4 linked regions of the Homo sapiens genome follow. The protein of the gene in region 3 interacts with the protein of the main gene of each other region in a pairwise test. Each region holds a gene or a part of one and is shown on either strand. Other genes may lie near its edges.

What was found. The genes of interacting proteins can lie anywhere in the genome.
Region 1: the proteins of GRIPAP1 (region 3) and ELOA interact in binary tests that used the Homo sapiens proteins (3 or more experiments, as listed by UniProt).
Region 2: the proteins of GRIPAP1 (region 3) and ZNF219 interact in binary tests that used the Homo sapiens proteins (3 or more experiments, as listed by UniProt).
Region 4: the proteins of GRIPAP1 (region 3) and TSNAX interact in binary tests that used the Homo sapiens proteins (3 or more experiments, as listed by UniProt).

Annotation. Positions count from the first base shown.
Region 1 is NC_000001.11:23,753,471-23,756,970, reverse strand, and holds part of ELOA (elongin-A), read right to left. Parts: intron 2,872-3,500; coding exon 2,716-2,871; intron 2,609-2,715; coding exon 2,511-2,608; intron 1,129-2,510; coding exon 948-1,128; intron 698-947; coding exon 586-697; intron 19-585; coding exon 1-18. UniProt on the Homo sapiens protein: SIII, also known as elongin, is a general transcription elongation factor that increases the RNA polymerase II transcription elongation past template-encoded arresting sites.
Region 2 is NC_000014.9:21,092,617-21,095,655, forward strand, and holds part of ZNF219 (zinc finger protein 219), read right to left. Parts: intron 1,059-3,039; 5' UTR 976-1,058; coding exon 970-975; intron 675-969; coding exon 1-674. UniProt on the Homo sapiens protein: Transcriptional regulator. Recognizes and binds 2 copies of the core DNA sequence motif 5'-GGGGG-3'. Binds to the HMGN1 promoter and may repress HMGN1 expression. Regulates SNCA expression in primary cortical neurons.
Region 3 is NC_000023.11:48,992,265-48,995,764, forward strand, and holds part of GRIPAP1 (GRIP1-associated protein 1), read right to left. Parts: intron 1,315-3,500; coding exon 1,164-1,314; intron 1-1,163. UniProt on the Homo sapiens protein: Regulates the endosomal recycling back to the neuronal plasma membrane, possibly by connecting early and late recycling endosomal domains and promoting segregation of recycling endosomes from early endosomal membranes.
Region 4 is NC_000001.11:231,563,169-231,566,668, reverse strand, and holds the end of TSNAX (translin-associated protein X), read right to left. Parts: intron 2,142-3,500; coding exon 1,764-2,141; 3' UTR 145-1,763; downstream 1-144.

The DNA.
Region 1 (3,500 bases), on a different chromosome or scaffold from region 3:
TACGGGGCTGGCTTGATCCTGCAACACAGGACAACACTGGTTAGGCATGAGCACAAGAAATCTGCCCTGAGCATGAACAGCCTGAAGCTGGCCTGTGTGAGGATGACTCACCCTGTTTGTGGCTTTGACCAATGGACCCTATCACCCTGGATTCTGGTGGTGGCTCAGAGATGTCTCCATTATCCTTTCAGAAAAAATGATAATCTCAACTAACTTTTCACTGTTTTGGTATAAATCTGTATTTTGAAAAGGCTAATGTGGCTTAGACAAAATAACAATCATTGCAGAAATGTGTTTTTTGTTTAGATGGGAAAAGGGAAAGCATAAGGGAATGTTTCCCATAAGCCAGGCTTTGCTCTCCATTTAATCTTGACTACCCTAGGGCAGGGGTAATTATCACCTTGCACTGCAGTCCAAGAAGCGGAGGCTGAGGGAGGTGAGGGAAGTGCTGAGCTGATGAGGTCTGCCTCCAGAGCCCACAGTCTGCACTGCCTCACTTTCACCAAAAGCAATTTGCTTCCTGCCGCTATGGCTACCTCTAAGGGTTGATAGCACACAAAAGCCAGGTAAGAACACAGATCTTACTTGATTTTCTCAGGGACAGCTGCTCCTCCCGTTCCAAACTTTTCCTGCCTCCTCCGGACGTCACGAGGTGGCTTGGCCACAGAGTTGACAAAGGCCATCTTTGCTTGTCGGCCTGTGGAATTATGGAGATGAACATCTGCCTTCTTGAGCAGAGATGCTACTGTTATTTAAATAATCCACGGGCTTTTTGAGTGCCCTGAAACCCCACTTGTAGGGTAGAATGGGCGGTGGCAGAAGAAATACCCACCCTGCTACCTGATGTAGGGGCAAGCAGTCCTACACCAGCCAAGCCCACCAACACCCTGCTATTGACCAGAACACTCATCCTGCCAGTTCTCCCCCAGCTCTCCCGTCTCTGTTACCTTTGGGCTTATTGGCATGTGCGAACTGGATATTCTTTGTTAGTACTCGTAGCCGCTGCTCTCGGGCGTCCTGAAGCCGCAGGTACATCTCTCGCCACGACTCATACTCTTCGGGTCTTTCTTCCTTAAAGTCTCGGTGACAATGAACTTTCCATAATTGATCTGTTTCTTCAATTAATACCTGAAACCAGAACCAGGACATCATTTGTGTACAAGCACTTTTCCATATTTTTTTTTTTTTTTTGAGACAGAGTCTTGCTCTGTCGTGTAGACTGCAGTGCAGTGGTGCAATTTTGGTTCACTGCAACCCTTGCCTCCTGGGTTCAAGCGATTCTCACGCCTCAGCCTCTCAAGTAGCCAGGACTACAGGTGCTTACCACCACGCCCAGCTATTTTATATTTTCAGTAGAGATGGGGTTTTGCCATGTTGTCCAGGCTGGTCTCGAACTCCTGACCTCAGATAATCCGCCCACCTTGGCCTCCCAGAGTGCTGGGATTACAGGCGTGTGTCACCATGCCCAGCCTCATATCTTTTTCTGATTATTTAATTACCTAGGAGTGACCAGTTTCCCAAAAATTTTTTGGTCTTCATCTTAGTAGTATGTTAAAATACCACAATTCTAGGAAAAAAATAACTCCCTAAATTTTAAAAATGCGAAGTGTGAGGCACTATGCTAGTTGCTTTTGGTGGCTGTGACAGAATATCACAAAAATCTGTGTAACATCAGTCTTTTCCTTTAGAAAATCAGCAAAGGGTAGAACTGCGATCAAGTCAAATCAGGTACTTCCCAACACTACGCTGAACTGTGATGGCAAAGGGGCAACCTAAGAAGGATGTTAAGTTATTGGCCAGGCGCGTTGGCTCATGCCTGTAATCCCAGCACTTCAGGAGGCCAAGAGTCTGAGAGTCCATCTCTCTAAAAAATAAAAATATTAGCCAGCTGTGGTGGTATGTGCCTGTAGTCCCAGCTACTTGGGAGGATCACTTAAGCCCAGGAGTTCAAGGATGCAGTAAGCCATGATTAGGCCTCTGTACTGCAGTCGAAGCAACAGAGGTAGACCCTATCTCCAAAAAAAAAAAAAAAGGTGTTAGGTCATAGAACTTTCAGAATTAAAGAGAGACAGCTGATGCAATCAAATGTGTATACCCTACATCCTAAGGAGGATTCTGGATAAATCTTGATGTTTCTTAAGAGACATCCAGCCAATCACCAGATGTCAGAGTGTCAACACAAAGTGCTTTCCCCGCCCTGGGTCCCAGCTACTCTGCTGCCAGAATTCTCCCTTTACCTTCATGACTAGGCAAGCTCAAGGGAGATGTTAAGTGTTTTTCTTCTCCCTTTGAATCCCACCCTGATCCTAGCCCAAGAGGCCCACTTAAGGTGCCAGGAGCAAGTGCTAATAACATGCTTGTTTAAAGGCCCAGTGGCAAACCAAATATATCCAGAACAATGCTCTGACCACTGATCTGCCCTTCAGCCACAGCGGAGTCACAGGGACAAAGCTATTTCTGGAGGTACAAGCCAGAAAACTGCCCTCTTCCCACCCAAACAGAATACTCACATGATTGTATTCCTCTATGCGATACAGCTGATCAGGTGTACACCTCTCCAAAACGGGTTCAAGAACAGAGTATGGGACTCCTCCCACTTCAAAGATTGCTGCAGAGAAACCAAAGGTGAAGACACTGAGTAGCAGCCAAGCCACCCAGTGATAAGGTCCAAGTGCTACAATGTGCTTGAGAGCTAGAGAGAAGCGTGTGACTTACAATCGATGTTGTTTTTAAGTACTCGGATGCATTGCTGGTGCAAGGTCATCATTTTAGGGAGATAGGCACACTTGGAACCAGAATACACCTGCATCTTGGAATTCATTCTGCGCCCAGTAAATCCAGCTTCTTCTTCTTCCTGGGGTGAAGAGAACGCTATAGGGCAAGAAAAACACAAAAGGCCCTAAGTGATCCAGTGAAAACTCTCCTTCTACCCCCTTCAGCCTCCTACTTCCCTTTCCCAATGGCAATCCACGCTACAGATTTTTGTAGATCCTTCCAGAGAATTTAAAAATAAGCTCCTGTAATCCCAGCACTTTAGGAGGCCAAGGCACATGAATCATCTGAGGTCAAGAGTTCGAGATCAGCCTGCCCAACATGCACCTGTAGTCCCAGCTACTCAGGAGGCTGAGGCAGAGGAATTGCTTGAACCTAGGAGGTGGAGGCTGCAGTGAGCCAAGATGGAGCTACTGCACTCCAGCCTGAGTAACACAGCAAGACTCTCAACAGCAACAACAAAAAAAAGCAAATGTATCTTATTCCTTTTAAGCCAATGAATCAATTAATAACATACTCACTACATACATTGCTTTTTTTCATTTGCCACATCTGAGAGATCATTCCATGTCAGTGCATAGACTTTCCACATTTTTTTTTTACTGTGGCATAGGATGCCACTGTGTAGATGAACCATGATTTATCTGTTAGTCTCCTGCTGATAGACCCTTATGTGGCTTCTACTTCTTTTGCTATGAAAATTAGACATTTTTTTCTTTCAGACAAAA
Region 2 (3,039 bases), on a different chromosome or scaffold from region 3:
GGAGGCGCAGCGGAGGTGGCCGCCAGGGGACGCTCGGGAGCCCCGTGGGCCGTCAGGCTGTGGTGCAGCAGCTCCTCCTCCTGGCTGGAGCCGAAACTGCACAGGCCGCACTTCCAGGGCCTATGCAGGATGTGCAGGTGGCGTTCGCGCTCCGCCGAGGTGCGAAACTTGCCTTTGCAGTAGGGGCAACGGAAGGCGGACGATGAAGGAGCCTGGGGCCGCGCCAGACCCTCAGTGGCAGGGGTGGCCTGCATGCCCCCTGAGCTTCGGGCTCTCCCCAGTCGGGCCTCGCGTAGTAGCGCGCGCTCTTCCAACTCCAGCAACAGGCGTGCAGCAGGACTACGTGGGCGCTCGGGCTGGTGTGTGCGCAGGTGCGAGCGCAGCAGAGCCCGCTGCGCCGCGCGGTGGCCGCAGTGAGGGCACTGGAAGGCCTGGGCTCCTGGGTGCGCCCGCAGGTGCAAAGCAAGGATAGAGTTGAAGCGGAAGCGCTTCCCGCATACAGGGCAGGGGAAGCGCCGTTCGCCTGCACGACTCTCAGACCAGCTCACCGCTCCCATCCCGAGCGACCCTGCGCTCACGGCTGGCCCGTTGGAGTATCGCTGCAGATCCAGCTCGCCGTCGAAAGCCGGCGGCGACGGCGCTAAGTGGCCGCTCGGGGCGCGGGGACGTGAGCCCTGTGGAGAAAGATCTGCGTAGAGCAAAGGGTGAAGGTAGAGCTGTAAAGGAAGCAAGGGCGTCGCCTCGAGGGCCAGAAGGACAACACGAGGGAAGGTGGGCTGGGGCCTGAACTAGGAACACAGGGTGCTACTCACCTCGGGAAGATGGGGTGGGGGGAGGTGTATGGGAATCGAGATGTCAGGGCCAAGGAGTTAACTTCTAATAATGGGAGGTCAAAGAGAGAGAGAGGTAGGCAGGAGAGGGAGTATACAGTTGTAGGTACTTGTAGGTTGAAGCCAGAGCTTCACTCACCTCCATGGACCCCCTTCACATTCTTTGGTTCTGGGAAGTGCAGGGAAGAGGAGGAAAAGCTGCTAATGAAGGCAACAGGTGCTGTGGAGCTAAAGCAAGAGACAGATTTGGAGGAAAAGATGAGCCCTAGTTTTCAGCAGTAAAGTCACTCCCTACCCCCAGACTCTCAGCATTCTGTATTCCCAAAACCAATCCATTCTCCCTACTTGCTTCTTGAGGCACGAAGGGGCTGCTATACTCAAAAACTGTACCTCTTGACTTGCCAAGCCTACAAGCCTCCCAGATAATCCAGATTTCTTCCCCAAATTCTATATTTTAAATGCATGGTCCAGAACAACCACAGCTACCACCCCACCCCCTGGCGGTGGGGAAGACCATCACAATATGCCCCTCTCCCATGTAGGTTGGGCTATGCAGTGTGGTGAGCAAATGAGGTGGGCTTGCCATGCTCCCCATTTATCCAAGTGGGACCAGTTGCTCTGAGATCCCTAACTGAGCAGCCAGCCAAACATCCTTCCAGGTTCCACAGTGCTTCCTTCTGCCCTTACCCTGTCTTTCTGTCTTTCCCCCCTCATTCTCCCTCCCTCCGCCTGGATTCCTGATCCATTCATTTCCATTCATTACAGAGACTCATTCATGCATGGGAGAGAAACACCTCCCAGCAGCAGAGTCTGAAGACAGACAGAGGGGGAGGGGCATGAAGGGGGAGGGAGCCAGAGGGAGAGGGAATGAAGAGAGAGTTGGGGGAGGAGTGGAAGTTAAGGGGCACAGCTAGCCTGGGGAAGGGGCTAAAAACTGCAAATACCGTATAGGATTCATCCCCTTGTTTCAAACCTTGGAGCCTGCAGTATGATGGGGCATCTGAGCCCCTTTGTCCAGGGCTGTTCCGAGGCAGGCTTTCCTCCTCTCTGCAGGGGAGAGGCTCCCTCACACAAGAGGAGGATTACACTGGCTCTGAGCTCAAGAGGCTGGAGTGAGGGACGGGGGGCGGGGCTGGGCCATCTGCACAGATAGGGACTCAGCACATGCTCTGAGCAGGAAAGGGTTAAAATTCTCCAGGCTAAAATTCCCTAGGCCTGGGACTTGCAGAGCTCCAGTGCTGGGGAAGGAGAAGATCATTGAGAGGAAGAGGATAGGGGTTGGGGGGGGGGGCGGGTGCTGATCCTAAGCTGCAGAGGAGTTTAGCATGAGGACTTAGAAGAAACCCCAGAATCAAGATTCATGGAAACAGACCTGGGAGGATGACCAGAAGTCATCTAGTCTACCTTTCTGCCTCATATAGAATAGTATCTGGTCAAGGCTAAATGAATGTGGGTCTAACCTTTTTTTTTTTTTTTTTTTGTCTAAGAAAGGATATTTGAGATATAAAGAACTTCCTTACAATAGGCATCACAAAACTGAAATGGGTTACTGAGAAAGAAAAAGATGCAAGCATTACTTTGCCTAAGGATCTTTAATAGAAAAGAACTGTGCCAGGAGTCAACCTGCCTGTCAGCAGAGAGAAAAGGCTCTGGAGGTCCAAGGCTTCTTTAATTTTTGACATTTAGTGGATGTGGTAAAACTCCATGAAGGGGCAGGTACCTGTTACATGTGGAATCTGGGCTATAGGATTATTATTAGCAGATGATTAATTAACAAAGTGTCCTTGTCCAAGGGTCACTAGACGACCTCCACTACCACTTAATATGTGTATTTCTGTAGCTTCAAATTAGGGCACCCACTCTCATCCTCTGGATCCTTTCCTGGGACTAAGAGCCTAGCCAGGCTTACTGAATAGTGTCACAAAAGGTGAATTAGAATAGGACTGAAGGGTACAAGGCTATTGTAGGCCTAGTCTGAACATTGATAACCCTACAACCTTTACTAAATCACTTAACCTCCCAGTTTACTCATCAGTAAAATAAGGGGATTGGACTAATTTATAGTGTTAGTCCCTTCCTGCTCGAAAAAAGTTTGTGATTCTAAGTCACAGGACTCTTTTGGACCCCAGAGAGATGTTAAAACAAATGGTCATCCCTTCAGTACCATGGAGAGTGCAGTGGGCTACCACAGAAGCCACTTGGGCCACCT
Region 3 (3,500 bases):
CAAAGTGCTAGGATTACAGGTGTGAAACACCGTGCCTGGCCTAATTATTTTATTTTTAGTACACACAAGTTCCTGCTATGTTGCCTAGGCTGGTCTTAAACTCCTAGCCTCAAGAGATCCTTCTGCCTCAGCCTCCCAGAGTGCTGGAATCAAGGTATGAGCCACTGTGCCCAGGCTCTCACAAATATTTTAAGCCCTATCAACCACTAAGATTCTGTTTACTATTAAATTAGCCCAAGCTGGTTTCACAAATCCCATTCTCAATCCTTGAAGCCCCACCCATAGCCCTTGAAGGCCATGCCCACCATATGCTACCACTGACTTACAGCTGAATCCCTCCTAGAGCCTCCTAATTCCTACTCACATTCTACTAAGTCTCCCTCCTGGTCATGGAACCAGCATCCATCACCACAGAAGTCCCAGCTGCTCTCCAAAGTTCCACACACCACATGCTCCCACACTCTATCAAGCTTTCTTTCAGCTTTCATCCCAGACCCCACTTACAATCTGGGCTCAGAATCTTCCCAACACTCCATTCACTTTTTCACTTAGCAAATATCTCCTTTTTTTTTTTGAGATGGAGTCTCGCTCTGTCGCCCAGGCTGGAGTGCAGTGGTGTGATCTCGGCTCACTGCAAGCTCCACCTCCCAGGTTCACACCATTCTCCTGCCTCAGCCTCCAGAGTAGCTGGGACTACAGGCGCCCGCCACCGTGCCCGGCCAATTTTCTGTATTTCTAGTAGAGACGGGGTTTCACCATGTTAGCCAGGATGGTCTTGATCTGCTGACCTCGCAATCCGCCCGCCTCAGCCTCCCAAAGTGCTGGGATTACAGGCGTGAGCCACCGCGCCCGGCCGCAAATATCTCCTTTTTGACATTCAAGCTGCTAATCTGTAACATCTGCTAGGTACCAGACACTGAACTAATGCAGAATGATATCACCTTTTATCTCTACTACAATCTTCTGGGTGACAGACATCACTACATGCACTGTGTAGATGATAAGGCTTTGGCTCAGAGAGGTGAAATGGCTTGTCCAAAGCCACACAGGGCATGGGCCAACCCTATTTCTGAAGCCCTTCTCCTTCCCCTGAGAGGATGACGGCCTTCCTTGCCCTACTCAAGCCCCAATGTCTCCGCATCCCCAGGAGGGCCTCTATGCACCTGCCACGTTCTTCTGCAAGGCTGTGTTTTCAGCCTGTAGCCTCAGCAGCTCCCCATCCACGAGGGGCCCAGCTTGGGCAACCCCTGCTCCTGCAGCCCCCTCCTTCAGTTGCTGGTTCTCTTGCTCCAGCTGTTCCATCTGGCTGCAGAGCTGAACAGAGGAAGAGAAGGGGCAGAGAAGCAGAGAATCAGAGCAGTATTTGCTGAAACCTACATAGCATTTGTCCATGTACTTTACAATTCACTTAATTCCCATAATGACCCTATGATATAGGTGCCCTCCCACTTTACAAATAAGGACATTGAGGCACAGAGATGTTAAACAAGTTCAAATTCACACATCTTTTAAGTGGCAGAGTCAGAGAATACCAAGAGCATACCAAGTATGAGGACACCAAAAACCATTTTCCTCTTCCTACTCCCAACCTCAGAGATGCAATCCAAGACCTCAGGCTCCTCTGGAAGTTGTTAGTGCTACAGACAGCCTCACTGCAACCCCTCTTCTGTGGAGGGCTGGATCCTGGGCCCAGAGATAGCTCCCTCTCATCCTAAGCACCACAAAGAGCTCGCAGGGCATTTCCAGGGCCAACACTGATGACAGCTCCTGCATTGCCAGCCGTTAGTCTTGGAGAGGTATACAATGCCAATACAACTAAGCCAGCCCCCTGCCCAACTCCTGGCTGAAGTACACTTCTCAAAGCAGTCCTGAGAAAATTCCTTGTCCCCATTTTCAGATGAGAATATCGAGGCCTACAGAGAATTTTTATTTTATTGCCTGCAATATTTTCTTTCTTTTTTTTTTTTTTTTTTTTTTGAGATGGAGTCTCGCTCTGTCACCCAGCCTGGAGTACAGTGGCACGATTTCAGCCCACTGCAACCTCCGCCACCCGGGTTCAAGTGATTCTCCTGCCTCAGCCTCCTGAGTAGCTGGGACTACAGGCATGCGCCACCGTGCCCGGCTAATTTTTGTATTCTTATTAGAGACGGGGTTTCGCCATGTTGGCCAGGCTGGTCTTGAACTCCTGACCTCAGGTGATCCACCTGCCTCGGCCTCCCAAAGTGCTGGGATTACAGGCATGAGCCACCGCACCCGGCCTGCTTGCAATATTTTCTACCCAGAACACCAATCCTCTCATCCAGTTCTTCACCTAACTGGCTTCTTTGCATCCCTCAGTGCTCTGCTCAGATGTTGCCTTTAAAGTAGTATCCCTCAACACAGAAAATTCCAGTACTCTCTGTCACAGCACTGTTCATTTCTTTCTTACCTAGTACTAATCAAAATTTTCTTTTGTAACAAGCACAGATTCTGAAACCAGACTGCTTGAATGTGAATTTCTGCTCTGCCATTTACTAGCTGTGTGACAAATTACTTAATCTCCCTGGAACTCAGTTTTCCTCATCTGTCAGATAGGGATACTAATATCTCATAGGCTTATTTCAAAGATTAAATGAGTGAATAATGTAGAGTACTTCAAACAGGACTTGGCACACAGTAAGCACCATATAAATGTCAGCTATCACTACTAGTATTATTTGTTTACTGTTATCATCTTTCTCCTCATCCCACCCCCAGAATGTAAGCTACCCAAGAGTGGAGATCATTCTGTGCTGCTTACAACTGTATTTCCAGAACATAGAGCATGTGGTGGGTACTCAGTAACTATTTGTCGAAGGAACAATTAAGCTGAAATGTCTTGATGAATAAGGGGTGGTGGCAGGTTTAACGTAGCTCTCTCTGAGAGCACTTCCAGTTCCTGGGAGGAGTTGGAGGAGGAAGGGGACTATGTAGGAAGTCTCTACGACTAGCCCAGTGCTGGCCCAGGGCAGATGCAGGGAAACAAGCTGGATTTATGGAAGAATGTCTGCCCCTGCCTCACTCTGCAAGAATCATGATACCATGGAGGCTGGAGGCAGGAAGCAGTGAGGAGTCAGTCAGTGAAGCCAGCAGTTATGTGAATACCAGGGGCTCTGAACTAGGAGCAGGACTGGGGCACTGGAATGTATTAAGTAAAGGAGTGATGTCATAAGATCTGCAGGTCAGAACAGCCTCTGTGGTGTGAACTAAGTAGAAGAAACTAGAAGTGAAGAGACCAGGGAGGCGGCTGTAGAAACAGCAGATGATAAGTGGTAGAGGCTAAGGCAAAGCAGGGCCACAGGGTGGATATAAAACTTTTTTTTTTTAAATTGAGACAGAGTCTTGCTCTGTCGCCCAGGCTGGAGTGCAGTGGTGCAATCTTGGCTCACTACAACCTCCGCCTCCCGGGTTCAAGCGATTCTCCTGCCTCAGCCTCCCGAGTAGCTGGGACTACAGGCACGTGCCACCACACCCGGCTAATT
Region 4 (3,500 bases), on a different chromosome or scaffold from region 3:
TAACACCCACAGTATTAGTATGACATGAACTGTGGAGATATATCAGTAGCAATGGCACCAACTCACCTGTAGTGAGTTGACTACAGGTGAGTTGCAAAACCAAAAAACCCACCATCACTAACACGAACAAACAAAAAAACAGAATTTACTAGGCATGTCCATGTTTTATTTTCTTTAGGTGTTTTTCTGGAAAATTACATTTTCAAGGAATCAGCCCTTACAAACAGAGCTAATCTTTCAAAAAATAAAACCCAGTATCTAGATTCTCAAAACTTACAAAACCAACTGGAAATGTCTGGTTGTCATGCTCAATTCAGTTTCACATCACAAGTAATCATCTATAACTATTTCAGTAGGCAAATTCCAATTCTAAATATTACTAACGATTACCATTGTTATTCTCAACTGTGTTGACAATTGTCTTATTGCTGAATTGTTCATAATACATCTTCTTTGGCAACTTTATTAACACCATGGGACAACTAAAGGTCTGGATTAACTTAGTATTTCAAAACTTCATTATAATTATTTAAAAGTAAATGCTAGACTTAAATTATTTAAATTTAAATGCTAGATTTAAATTATTTAATTTTAATAAAATTTAAATTTAAATGCTAGAATAGGAAAGCCTCCAAACATGCCTAATATAACAAAAACAAAAATTGCTAAATAATCACTACTAAAAGCATTTCCATTGTATGTACAAGTATATAACTCAACTTTACCAACAAAAATATTATAATTTAGCTCCAATTCTCTATCAGACCTACTGTGATTAAAAAAAAACAAAAAATAAATGGAGAAAGCAACATCTGGGCACCTGTCAAATTTTTATGGAAGGTTGTTTTATATAAATTTTAAATGGCTTAAAATCAGCCAGAATGCGAATTTTTCACTATAATACTTTATAAACTTGTACTTTCTTTTTTCTTTCTTTCTTTTTTTGAGATGGAGTCTTGCTCTGTTACCCAGGCTGGAGTGCAGTGGCGCAATCTCGGCTCACTGCAACCTCTGCCTCCCAGGTTCAAGCGAGTCTCCTGCCTCAGCCTCCCAAGTAGCTGGGATTACAGGCACATACCACCATATCCAGCTAATTTTTGTATTTCTAGTAGAGACGAGGTTTCGCCACGTTGGTCAGGCTGGTCTTGATCTCTTGACCTCGTGATCTGCCTACCTCGGCCTCCCAAAGTGCTGGGATTACAGGCGTGAGCCACCACGCCCAGCCTAAACTTGTACTTAAATTATATATTGATAGCTTATTCATTTTTAATTCTTGTTCCATGGAATAAGCCTATTTTTGAGGCTTGGCACGATATTAACAAGAAATTTAAACAGGACGCTCATGTCCAGAAGTTTAACTAAAAAATCTTTTCTATATATAATATAACTACCAACTTAAATTACAAATTGCTTCCACTAAAAATTATCACTCCAAACTTCAGAAAAAGTAAATTAAAATAGGTTATGGCAAAAGGTACACTCTGAAGCATGTTCACATTACAAAGATAAATGATAAAGGTTAACCAGCAAAAATTCAAAAAGGCATATATGCAAACATCTGTATGCAAACTTTCATGAATAAGATATAAGAAATGATTCATTTGGCTAATTTTATGTACAGCTTGTATACAATTTAAAACAAGTACAACTGAATATGTTTCTATGTAAAAGCCACAATAAAGTTAAATGAAATACTAAATAAGTCTTACAAATTGGTCTCTTAGGAGTTCTCAAAAGAATTAGTAACTGAGTAACGTTAGATTCTAAGAAATGCCCTCTTCTTGATCTATCATTTCTGTTTTAACTGAAAACACATCTGCCAACATATGTTTTGGAATTTCTGACCCTCTGACTTTCAAGGCATAACAAGCATTCTCCACTTTGGCCAAACTTTGTTTCAAGGTATACAGCTTCTTAGAAACCTCGTAAGGTCCAGTGTTGCCAATGAATGAAAACCCATCATAAACCTGACGTAAAAACTGGCTCACTTCAAAGGGGGTATCAATGTCCCCATTCCCCACACTGTTAATACACATCCGCATCAATTCTCCAGTTAAGTCAGCCACTCCCAGAAGGTAATCGACAGGTGTGACTCTCAGTCTCCAAGTACCAAACTGCTTATCCTGTGCATCAGAGGAGGGCTGGTAAAAAAACAAAACAAAACAAAAACACACACACACACACACAAGAAAGAACACTGTGAAAAAGAGTGAATATAGCATGTATCACATTTATTATAGAAGTACAAAATCAATAGCAAATCAGTCATACTAATTTTTTCTAAATAAAATAAATCTGTTTTGCTTAATAACCACTTGGGATGTTACAGGAGGAATGTGTGCCCTGGGTAGTGAAATGAACCAGATGACTTCAAGATACTTTTGAAATATATCATTATGAAACCAACTATTTCCAACTCCACTTGATGTACAAAATAAAAATATTCTTGAACAAGGCTTAATAACTTTATTGCACGACAATTACTTTCTTAAATGAAAAACCATACAGCCCTCCAAGTTTGTGATCCATTAATGTTTTCCTAAGAAGCTCAGTCTTTTTCTGGCTTCTTGTCTTTCCCTATTCAGCACTCACCATCACAATTTATTATTCTCTCACTGCATCCTCAATTCCCTTAGACTGCTATATTTTCTACTGCACCTACCCAGCAAAAACAGAATCCTCAATCAATACTAAAATATACTCATTAGTCCTTTATTCAGGTGGCTGAGTACCACTCACTGAGTTAAAAAAAAATGGTAATCACAACTGCAGAGTCTGTACCGCTACAAATTACTCTCCAATCCTTTTACTTATCATTAGATGGTTCTCTTTCCAGCCTCTTCAAACACAATTTCAAACCTTTCACCACTCTCCTCAGGGCTCTACTCAAATCCCAAACCTCTTCACTTTCAGTAGACAACCTTGCCCAATTTCAGTGACCTGGTCATTTGCCAGCTTACCTAGCACAATTTCTCACAACTGCCTTTATCCCTACCAAAAAAAAAAAAAAAAAAAATTTATATCCACACCCATCTTTACCTTCTATCCTCCAGTCTCAGATGATGAGTTGTCCCTCCTCTTGTTTGAGGTTAACTCTTCCAAATGACCTTGACCCATCTCCTCCCACCTCTTCCAGGACCTTGCTTCATAAGGTGTATGCCCTTGGGCAAGTTATTTCATCTCTCTAAACCTCAGTTTCCTCATCTGTAAAATGGGATAACAGTACCTACCTCAGAGGTTTATTTTAAGGGTTAAATGAGAACATTTACCAAGTTCTTGGCATAATGCCCAACACAAAGTAAATATTCAACAAATGCTAGCTGCTATCATGATATCATCATGAAATCTCTCTCCACATCAATTTCCCTCTACTGAATTCTTTCTGGTAGAGACGATGCCTAAATTGTTATTAAAAGACGGTATGTATAAAAGGGTAGGTGAAGTTGCAGTTACATCAAAGGACATTTTAGGTAGTGGGAACTACAAAGGCATACAGGTAA